Linked DNA regions of Homo sapiens: region 2 is linked to region 1. Evidence: fine-mapped expression QTL. A gene starts in region 1. The other region holds a variant in brackets. All regions are shown on one strand. Distances are between the middles of the regions.

Region 1 (5,352 bases):
CAGCTGCCTCCTGGTAGCGGAACTGCCGAAACCTCAGCCGAAAAGTCTCTGGACTAGGGTCCTCCCTTCCTCTGCCCCATGGCAACTCTTTCTCCAGTTTCACCACAGGAATACCCAACTGCTGCTGAGGAGCTTCCGCCATCTCTGGATGCTCTTTAAGCATCTTCAGACTCCCTCCGAGGAGACTGAGAATGACTGCATCAATGACCCTTTTGAGAACAAGAGACACATGAAAGGTCAGCCCATCCCAGTTCTGTCTCTACATCAAGGAATATTCCACTGGAGAACACAGTAATTACCTTTTACAAGGCATTTTCAAAAGACTGAACACAGATCCCAAAAGTCAGGTCAATTCAACATAGTAATCATTTGCTAAGCAACTATTAGGTACAGAGACTAAACAGAAAATGTCTAAGATTTTGCTTTTATACCCACAAATAACTTAGGATCTCACTGGAGAATAACACTACAATCAGAGAATAATATATAATGGGTTATAACTGGGTGAGTCACCAGGGCCTACTCTTCCAATACTAAAGGAAACATACATGCAACACACAAACACACACATATACACACACAAGAGGCAGGCAGAAACAACAAATAAAATAGAAAACAAGACACACTGGGAGCTTACCCTCCTGAAACTCATATGCTGGTACAGCAGACAGAAAAAGTCAAATGGAAGCAACTCTTTTAAAAACTGCAAGTGGAGACAAGTTCTAGAAAGAAAATAAGTAGGGTGCTCTGTTAACAGGGGGCAACTGACTTGAAGAAGGCTTTTCTAAAGACATGATACCAGGCTGACTCAAGGATGAGAATGAGTCAGTCATTCTAAGAGCATTCCAGGCAAAAGCCCTGAGGCTAAGAAATTACTCTGGGTGTCCAAGAACAAGCCATATCCCAGTGTGGCTTCAGCAGTGACGAGCAGAGCTGCACCAGAAGAGGTGGCAGAGGCAGACAGAAACCAGATCACCCAGAGCCTGCGCCACAGAAAGAATTATGAACTTTATTCTTATTTCTTACTTTAGCGAGGAACTACATGTTTTATAAAAGTCATTCTGCCTGTGTGTTGACAGGGAATAGGCTAGAGGTGGCAAGAGGGAAATGGCACTTACAGTGATTCAAGCAGATGATAAGGGCTTAGATCAGGGTGGTGGCAAAGAGTCAGACAAAATCAAGACGTATTTTGGAGATTAAAACCAACAAACTTGCTGATGGCTTAGATGTGATGGTGCGCTCAACCTGAAAAAGACAATGGAGCAACATATATACCATTATGACAAATGACCTAAAGATTTCTAACTTGTACAGGCTTTACTCTTTAGAAAGCATGTGAACACATATTTCATCTAATACTTAAAACACTTCTGTAGGATGAGTGCTACTCCTCCTACTTCTCAGAAGAAAAAAAAGAGACTAGATGATAACTGCCTCCCAAAATACATGGTACAGATTGAAAAAAAAATGTGAAGTCAAAAAGAGAGAAAACTAATCTAAGTCCAAGTACTCAAGGAAAAGAAGAGGCTTGAAGTAGACTGGAGAATGAGTCCTATTTACCTCCAAGTGGATTATGCGGAAGACCTAGACTGGGAAGACAGACTTGGAAGTCCAAAGCACCAGGGGAAGGAGATCCTGCTTGTCAGAAAACGGAAAGATCACCTGACTGGAGCAGAGAATGGGCAGCTGGCAGGAGGCACACCCCAAAGCTTCTGCTAAATATTCTATTGTGAGTTTGTGTATTTATCTACCCCCACTTAAACCAAGTTTATATTTTCAGTCTATTCATTGACTCTGCAACATTGAGATTTCTCTTTCATTCCTTTCTAGCTATTGCATTGGTTCACTCCACTAGTGCATTTAATGCACTACAGTGCAAATGTTTACCCATGTGTCTCCCTCTAACAGATTCCCTGGAGGCAAGAAAGATCCTCATTCATCTTTTATCTCTGCCATTTGACAAATAGAAATTGCCCCATTGCTATTCTTTATCTCCCCCCACCCATTGTGACTCTTTTGTTTTGTTTCTGAGACAGGATCTCAGGGTTTTATCACCCCAGCTGGAGACCAGTGGTGCGATCACTGCAGCCTTTGCCTCCTAGGATCAAGCGATCCTCCCACCTCAGCCTCCCGAGTAGCTGGGACTACTGGCGAGTGCCACCATGACCAGCTAATTATTTATTTTTGTAGAGACAGGGTCTCCCCATGTTGCCCAGGCTGGAGTGCAGCGGCATGAATGTAAGTCAGTGCAACCTTGAACTCCTGGGCTCAGGCGATCCTCCTGCCTCAGCCTCCCGAGTAGCTGGGACCTCAGGCGCGTGCCACCACGCCCGGCTACTTTTCAATTTTTGTAGAGACAGGGTCTCGCTATGTTGACCAGGCTGGCTCATCACTATTCTTTAAATAAGTGTCCTATGTGATTACTTTCACTTTGCACAGAGTTCTGCTTTGGTTCAAGATCTCTTCGGGTTCGTGGCCAGCCCTGCACTAAGCCAAGCCTGGCAGAGCGGGATCAGCCTCGCTCCTACCTGAGCCTACAGCGCGGCGGCCCCTCAGCGTCCAGACCCGCAGGGCCTCGGGGCCGCTGAAGGCAGCTCCTGAGAGACTTGCCGCCCTCAGCCGGGGCTGAGCGGAGGGAGACGGGCTCTACTGCAACCCCGCTGCCGCCGAGCCCCGTAGCGGCACCAAAACCCGTCCCCGCGCCCGTTTACCACTTCGCCCGCCACCCGCTGCGGCCCTGAAGAGGCTCTCACCCGCCGCGGCCCTGAAGGGCCTCTCACCCGCTAGGGTCGCCAGTGCTATCCGCGGTCCGGAAGTGAGCTGCGGACGCTGTTAGACAGGTGCGTAAGGAAAGACTCGCTTCCGTGTCCTCTCTAGGATGCTCGGAGGTCTCGGCGGATGCGTCTCGATGGTTGCTGATCCCAGCCTGCTGTTCCGAACCCGGCGAGGCGAAGACCACCAGGGCTTCCCCAGGATTGACTGCCCAGCTCGAGGCGCTCTGTGGCTAGGCCCCTTCCACTTCCGTGCCATTTCACCTGCTTGCCCTCCGTGGAAAGGACTCGGTGCATCGCCAGATACACTACTGGACACAGCACCTGCCCCAAGGGGCTTTAGAGTCCAGTCGGTCAATGCGCGACTATTCCGGCTGCGAGGGCCTTGCGCGAGGCGTAGGGGCAGAGGAGATAGGGGGCGCACTGGATCTAACCGGCTCACTTAAGAGGCTCCTGACCCCGGGTAGTGTGCGTGCGTGTGTGTATGTGTAGTCAGGGAAGGCTTCCTGGAGGAGCCAGCATCGGAGCTGTTTTTTGTGGGGGGTTTTTGTTTGTTTGTTTGTTTGTGTTTTTTGAGAAAGAGAGAGAGAAGTCTTGTTCTGTCTCCCAGGATGGAGTGCAGTGGTGAGATCATAGCTCACTGCAACCTCGAAGCCCTGAGTTCAAGCAATCCTCCCACCTCAGTCTCCTGGGTAGCTGGGACTTTTTTTCAATTTTTTGCAGAGAGGGGGATCTCTCTATGTTGCCCAATCTGGTCTCCAACTTCTGGACTCAAGCGATCTTCCCCCCTTGGCCTCCCAAAGTGCTAGGACTGCAGGCGCAAGCCACCGCGTCCAGCCTGAAGGCAGTCTGTCTCAACTGGGTGGCCCAGTGTTACTCCAGAATCCACTCAGGAAACAGGAAACCCTCTTGTCTTACTCTTCTCCAGCACTTTGCAAAGTGTCTGGTACAATATTTGCTAAAAATATACACTTATAGAGTAAATGAACTCCTAGAATATAACATAGGTGTTAGACCATCTCACTTTATCCTCCATGTCTCTGTCCCACTTTCATATTTTTCTTGTCTGCCCATATTTGACTTGGGTTTATGTCTTCACCTTTTTATTAATAATCCACTTTTCAGCTGTTTCTAATGTGCTACAAAATCCACAGTTGTTGTTTTTTTGTTTTGTTTTGTTTTGTTTTTTAAGAGACGAGGTCTTGCTGTGTCACCTAGGCTGGAGTACAGCGGTGCTATCATAGCTCACTACAGCTTCCAACTCCTGGGTTCAAGCAATCCACCTCAGCTTCCCAAATAGCTGGGACTACAGGCATGAGCCACCACACCCAGCTAATCTTTAAAAAATGTTTTGTAAGGACAGGGTCTCACTATGTTGCCCAGGCTAGTCTTAAACTCCTGGGCTCGAGCAATCCTCCCCACTTGGCCACCCATATTTTTGTTTTAATTAATATATTTTTTCCATTTCTAGAATTTCTATTTGATTTTTTCCAAATATTCTAGATCGATCTTTTAAAAGAATTTACCGATATGTTTAAGCTTTTCTTTGTACATAGTAAATATAGTTGAGCCTGATAATTCTGAGATCTGAAGTCCCCTCAGATATCTTTCTGTGATCTGCTATTTCCACTGTTTTTGATGGTGCCACTTCCACCAGCAGTACCTAACAGCATCCATTTCCCATATCTCATCATCTCTGCCATTATCCAGCTTTAATTTTTGCCAATTGACAGGTGAAGTAAATGTTACCTCATTTTTTAATTTGCATGTTCTTCATTATAAGTGAGGTCAGTCATTATTCCTACTTTCATTAACTTCTTGCCTTCCCTTTTCTGTGAACGGACTTTTCTTTGTGTTTCTATTAAGCTGTTTATCTCTTTCTTATTGATTTATGAGTTCTGGGGACATTATATAATGTCCCTAGAGCATTAAATAATGTCCCCAGGACATTAATTGGGGGCATTCCTCAAACATACCTTCCTCGAACATACCACAGTACCTTGTTTCCTTGTGTGACAGGCTGCTCATTTTCCTTGGAAACATTTTTGTGAAATTTCTTTGAGTTCCAGGATAAAGTGAATTTATCTAGAGAGGGTTGATATTGTTTTTCTTCCATGTAAATTTTTTTCTTGTCAGCATCACCAGTCCAAGGTCATTGTAAACCAAATTTATAATTTGAGGATTTTTGAACCATGCTATAATAGTAATATGAATTTGGGCTGCAAATATTGAGGGGTGATTTGTGGTTGCAACTTCTCAACCACAAATCTTTGTGGTTTTGTGGTTGTCCAGCGTGGCACTAAGACAAATTGCCTTGCTGGCTCCTGGTGGTAGGGGTACGGGAGAGGAGACTTATCTCTCACCCTTACATTGATAACCCAGCCCTTGTCTATGGCCATACCACCCTGAATGTACCGGATCTCTTCTGATAATCCACACTTTTGCAGTCCTTGGTTTATGGGGGGAAAGCTCTCTTATCAGATGCTCTTCCTTGAGTAAACTTTAGGCATAGTTTTAAAAAATCAAATCTCTGCAAGATGATTTCTCTAGGTATTATTCTTTACTTTGATGTTATCTTATA
Region 2 (5,370 bases), 200 kb after region 1:
TGGTGCCTATTTGGGAAGAACGCCATTGGGCAGATGGCTCTGGGCCTGCCCCAGGGTACCCAGCGGGGACCTGTTTCTCTGAAGTAAGCTAGTCCCATAGTGCGTGTTCACAGCTTTTCTGCCCTGTCCTCTGCAGCCACCTGGAAGGGAAAATGGCAGCCACCAGCTTCCCTGAGGCCTGAGCCAGCTGCCGAGGTTTGGGATTAGCTGTAGGTAACAGGAGTGATTCTAGCCTCACTTTTCTAATTCTAGTACCAAGGGAAGAACACCTACCTGGAGAAGATTGACGGCTTCCGAGCCTATTACAAGCAGTGGCTGACAGTGATGCCCGCAGAGGAAACCCCGCACCCCTGGCAGAAGTTCCGGACCAAGCCCCAGGGGGACCAGGACACCGGCAAGGAGGCTGATGACGGATGTGCCCTTGGGGGCAGGTGATGGGAGCACAGCTGGAACAATGTGCTCGGCCCCCAGTGCTCTGTGGGAGCCCCAGGACAAGTGAGCTGGTGTCACCTCCTGCCTGGGGGAAGAGCCAGGCCCTGAGGAACAGCCGCAGCGTGTCACAGGTGTTGGTGAGGACACACACTAGGCCCAAGGTGCCTGTGCTCCCAGCAGGTCCAAGTGCAGCTCCAGCCACCTTTGCGTGTCACCTTCACGGGACTTCCAGCTCCAGCTACCTTTGTGTGTCACCTCACACACCACAAGGGGGCTGGGGCATCTGGTCCCTGGGGCCTGGGCCGCCCCGCCGGGTTCCATAGGCCGATGCTCTGAAAGAAGAGACGTGGGGCTCGAGAGATTTAAAGATTTTATTTTTACAAATCACAGCTGATAGACAGCGAAGCCTTCCCCATAGAGACCGTGCTCCAACTCGGGCCTGGGGCACTGCTCGCTGCTCCCAGGAAGGGGGTGGCGTGACAGGCAGGAACCTGCGAAGTCCAGAGTCCAGGGTGGAGCGCGCCAGCCTCAGCCAGAGCAGCCACGACAGCCACAGTGTGTGCACTCGATGATGCGGCCCTGCAACGGAGGAGGACAGTGAGACGATGCCACTGCGCCACGCTCGCCCCTGCACACTCACATATGTGGCAACCCTCCCACGAAGGACCTGCCACCATGCCATATAGGGACACACCTCAGAAACCCTTCCTTGACAGCTCTGGACAGGGAAAATTTGGCTCCCTCATGAAGGTAGAACCAGCTGCTGTTGACACCGAGGTTACATCTGTATGTCTATTTATAATATGTTCTGCAAATCCAACACACGTTTGCCAATCAAGAAAAAGAAATCGGTGTGAATGAGTCTCGTTATTCTGCTAAGTGAGCATGACAGACCCTGCGATGAGCAGACGTGGCTCTGCTACTGTTTGGGGACTTCAGGGGGGCCTCTGGGCTGGTACACTCTGGTGGGGGAAGAGGGCAGGAGACTATGCACTTGAGTCACACCCTTCTGGCCCAGAGCCCCCCAGAAAGAAGGGTCTTGTCCCCCAGGCCTGGTGCGGCCCAACACTTGGCCAGCCAGAAAGCCCTAGAACAGTGGCTTGTGTTTATTTTACTTTTTCAAGTTCTTTTTTTGGAAGAACAAGACCATAGTTTAAGTAAACAGGATCCTCTGGTGAAACCCAGGTAAGTCTACAGCGGGCTGTTTTGGCCACAGGGCTGAAGCAGCACCCCAGCCCACCAGCCCCTGACCTGGACTCCTTGTGGAATCTGGGCACTCAGAGGAAGGGGGCTTCTGCCACTCTGCCACCTGTCCCTGCCTCCATCAGAAAACCAACACCCCAGTCTTCCGTCGGGGAGGCGGCCCTTGCTCGCCCCCACTGCTCAGTACCCAAGTCCTCAGCATCCAGCCACAGCTCTCCATTGTCAGTCTCACTGCAGCATAAAGGGGACTCATGTGAAGAGGCCCCTGTGTGGAGCTGGGGAAAAGAAGGCCAGGCTGGCAGATGGGCGGTGGGGCCAACAACTGTGCTGAGGGGCTGCACTGAGCGGCCACTGCTGTGACTCTGCCTCGGGCCACAGCTGCCTTTCAGAGGGGCTTGGAACCGGATGGAGCTCAGCTCCTGTCCCTCAGCACCACTCCTGAGGCGCCTGGCCTAGGAGTGGTACTTGGAACAGAAAGTTCTGAAAGAAGAAACACAGTGGGCTGGGCGCAGTAGCTCATGCCTGTAATCCCGGCACTTTGGGAGGCTGAGGC[G/A]GGTGGATCACCTGAGGTCGGGAGTTCGAGACCAGCCTGAGCAACATTGAGAAACCCCGTCTCTACTAAAAATACAAAATTAGCCAGGCGTGGTGGTGCATGCCTGTAGTCCCAGCTACTCAGGAGGATGAGGCAGGAGAACCGCTTGAACCCGGGAGGTGGAGGTTGCAGTGAGCCAAGATGGCATCACTGCACTCCAGCCTGGGCGACAAAGCAAGACTCCGTCTTGGGGGGGCGGGAAAGATAGTGATGGTAATGTTAAAGTATCACTGTGAGGACTGAAAGGGACAGGAACTCACTGGTTGTCCTTCCCTGATGTCACCCTGCCACCACCTTGGGATTAGGGCTCCCCACCACCATTTCCTAAGTGAGGAAAGGGGTTCAGTAATTTGCCCAAAAGTGGAGTTGAGATTGACCCCAGACCTAACAAACACACAGCCACACGCTGCCTCACATGGATTCCTGAATACAGGGACCCACTCCCACGAGGGAGAGCCAGCAGGACATCCAGGGACAAAACGACATTCCAGCCCAACCAAATAACATAAGATCCCTTGCAGTCGACTAAGGCAGAATTTTGAGCTGAAAACAACACCAAGCTTGAGTGTCAGACATTACCACTTCCAGCTTGCTTTTGGGCACGCGGCAGATGCAGTTCGTCCCGAAGTTGGTGTCCCGTGTCTGAATGCACCGCAGGCAGCACAAGTTCTCATATCCTTGCTTTTTCCATTTTGCAATCAGGTTTTTGTCTGCATAGCCTTCTTTAATACAATATTCATAGAGTTCTGTCAAAAAGATGGGGAAAGAGCATCAGGCCATGGTCTAAAAACCTTCCCCACCCTTGATCAAAAAAAGCATTCAGGCCGGGTGCAGTGGCTCACACCTGTAATCCCAGCACTTTGGGAGGCCGAGGCAGGCGGATCACCTGAGGTCAGGAGTTCAGGACCAGCCCGGCCAACATGGTAAAACCCCGTCTCTACTAAAAATACAAAAATTACTCGGGCGTGGTAGCAGCTGTAATCCCAGCTACTTAGGAGGCTGAGGCAGGAGAATCACTTGAACCCAGGAGGCGGAGGTTGTAGTGACCTGAGGTCGTGCCACTGGACTCCAGCCTGGGTGACAGCGAAACTCCATCTCAAAAAAAAAAAGGCATTCAGTATTGCAACGGGACAGTCCTTGGAGGAGGAACAAAAAAAAAAAGTACTTAGGCCAGGCAAGGTGCCTCACACCTGTAATCCCAGCACTTTTGGAAGCCAACGCCAGAGGATCATTTGAGTTAAGAAACCAGCCTGGGCCAAGGGCCCATCTCCACAAAAAATTTAAAAATTAGCTGGGTGTGGTGGTGCACACCTGTAGTCACAGCTACTCAGGAGGTTGAGGTGAGAGGATCCCTTGAGCCCAGAAGGTTGAGGCTGCAGTGAGCCATCATTGCACCACTGCACTCCAGCCTGTGGAACAGAGCAAGACCCTGTTTCAAAAAAAAAAAAAAAAAAAAAGCCAAGAGCGGTGGACCACGCCTATAATTCCAGCACTTTGGGAGACCGAGTCGGGTGAATCACCTGAGGTCAGGAGTTCAAGATCAGCCTGACCAATATGGTGAAACCCCATCTTTACTAAAAATACAAAAATTGGCCAGGTGTGGTGGCAGGTGCCTGTAATCCCAGCTACTTGGGAGCTGAGACAGGAGAATCGCTTGAACCCAGGAAGTGGAGCTTGCAGTGAGCCAAGATTGCGCCACTGCACTCCAGCCTGGGTGACAGAGTGAGACTCCATCTCAAAACAAACAAACAAAAAACAAACACACACACAAAACTCAGCCAACGTTGGCTCCCCCTAATTTTCGTGGTAAGAAAAACCATGACTTGCACAGGTTGCGAGAATAAGGATTGTGGTTAGTTCAGTAACTCCAAAAGTGACGCGAGCTTCAAAGTCCAAGAGAGACTGACTAATTACCTCTGCTGATGGCTTTCCGCTTGTAAAAGAGGTCGAAGATGTAGCGGGTTTTCTGGTGGTGGATCCTGAAGATGGGCCACAGAGATTCCACTTTCCTCTTTCCCTCATGCGGTTCTGTTTCAGCTGGGGAGAAACAAAGAGTGTGTTTGGGGGAATAGGGTCGGTCTGCGCAGGATTTTCTTTTTGTAAGTAACTACTGATAATGAATAAATACCACTTTATACCCACTAGGATGGCTGTGGGTGGCAAGCCACCCAGGTGCCGAGGCAAGAAACCGAGGGCACGAGCTGTTCTAGTATAATAAAATAAATAAAATAAGAATAGTTATACTAGATATAGATCTTAGATATGATTATATATGAATATCATTAATCCTTAGTTTGTAGCAATTACTCTTTATTCCAATATTATAATAATCCTCACTCGACAATCATAACCTAGGAAACACCAGGCTATACAGAGATGGGAGCTGAGGGGACATAGTGAGAACTGACCAGAAAACGAGTGCAAGCCTTCTGTTATGCCCGGACAGGGCCACCAGAGGGCTCCTTGGTCTAGCGGTAACGCCAGCATCTGGGAAGATGCCCGTTGCCAAGCGGACCTTGGTCTAGCAGTAGCGTTAGTGTCAAGGAAAAACACCCGCTACTTAGCAGACCGGGAAAGGGAATCTCCCTTTCCCCGGGGGAGTTTAGAGAAGACTCTACTCCTCCACCTCTTGTGGAGGGCCTGACATCAGTCAGGCCCGCCCGCAGTTATCCAGAGGCCTAACTATCTCCCTGTGATGCTGTGCTTTGGTGGTCACGCTCCTAGTCCGCCTTCATGTTCCATCCTGTACACCTGGCTCTGCCTTTTAGATAACAATAGCAAATTAGTGAAAGTACTAAAAGTCTCTGATAAGCAGAAATAATGGCATAAGCTGTCTCTCTCTCTCTGCCTTGGTGCCAGGCAGGCAAGGGCCCGCTTTCCAGTGGACACGTGACCCATGTGGCCTTACCTATCATTGGAGATGGTTCACACTGCTTATCCTGCCCCTTTGTCTTGTATCCAATAAATATCAGTGCAGCCTGGCATTTGGGGCCACTACCGGTCTCCGCGTCTTGGTGGGATTCCCAGGCTCAGCTGTCTTTTATCTCTTTGTCTTGTGTCTTTATTTCTACGCTCTCTCGTCTCCACACACGGGGAGAAACCCACCGACCCTGTGGGGCTGGACCCTACAGATGACTATAATC

Direction of the effects. Positions count from the first base shown, and alleles are read on the strand shown. Sizes are in standard deviations (SD) of each study's normalised expression.
For the expression in transverse colon of the gene that starts at base 2,824 in region 1, allele G in region 2 goes with a lower level than allele A (small effect, 0.34 SD a copy in GTEx).

Evidence for each region. PIP is the estimated chance that this variant, and not a neighbour inherited with it, causes the effect.
Region 2: its variant is the best candidate, but not a certain one, in a credible set for the expression of ZSCAN25 in transverse colon (GTEx, PIP 0.64).

What each region holds. Positions count from the first base shown.
Region 1 is chr7:99,614,418-99,619,769 of GRCh38, reverse strand. ZSCAN25 (zinc finger and SCAN domain containing 25) reads right to left here and starts at 2,824. Exons shown (of 8, transcript NM_145115.3): 1 at 2,754-2,824; 2 at 1,119-1,245; 3 at 638-722; 4 at 1-209. The coding sequence starts at 163. RefSeq lists enhancers at 2,789-3,108, 2,699-3,678.
Region 2 is chr7:99,415,032-99,420,401 of GRCh38, reverse strand. It overlaps BUD31 (BUD31 spliceosome associated protein), which reads right to left. Exons shown (of 6, transcript NM_003910.4): 4 at 4,142-4,264; 5 at 2,807-2,973; 6 at 786-1,011. The coding sequence ends at 961. ATP5MF-PTCD1 (ATP5MF-PTCD1 readthrough) reads left to right here. Exons shown (of 9, transcript NM_001198879.2): 9 at 253-3,663. The coding sequence ends at 435. It overlaps PTCD1 (pentatricopeptide repeat domain 1), which reads left to right. Exons shown (of 8, transcript NM_015545.4): 8 at 253-3,663. The coding sequence ends at 435. Among named protein-coding and RNA genes, the nearest start is that of MIR12119, 8.5 kb to the right of the region's middle. RefSeq lists a silencer at 4,720-4,769. The variant G/A (reference allele first, on the strand shown) is at 2,189.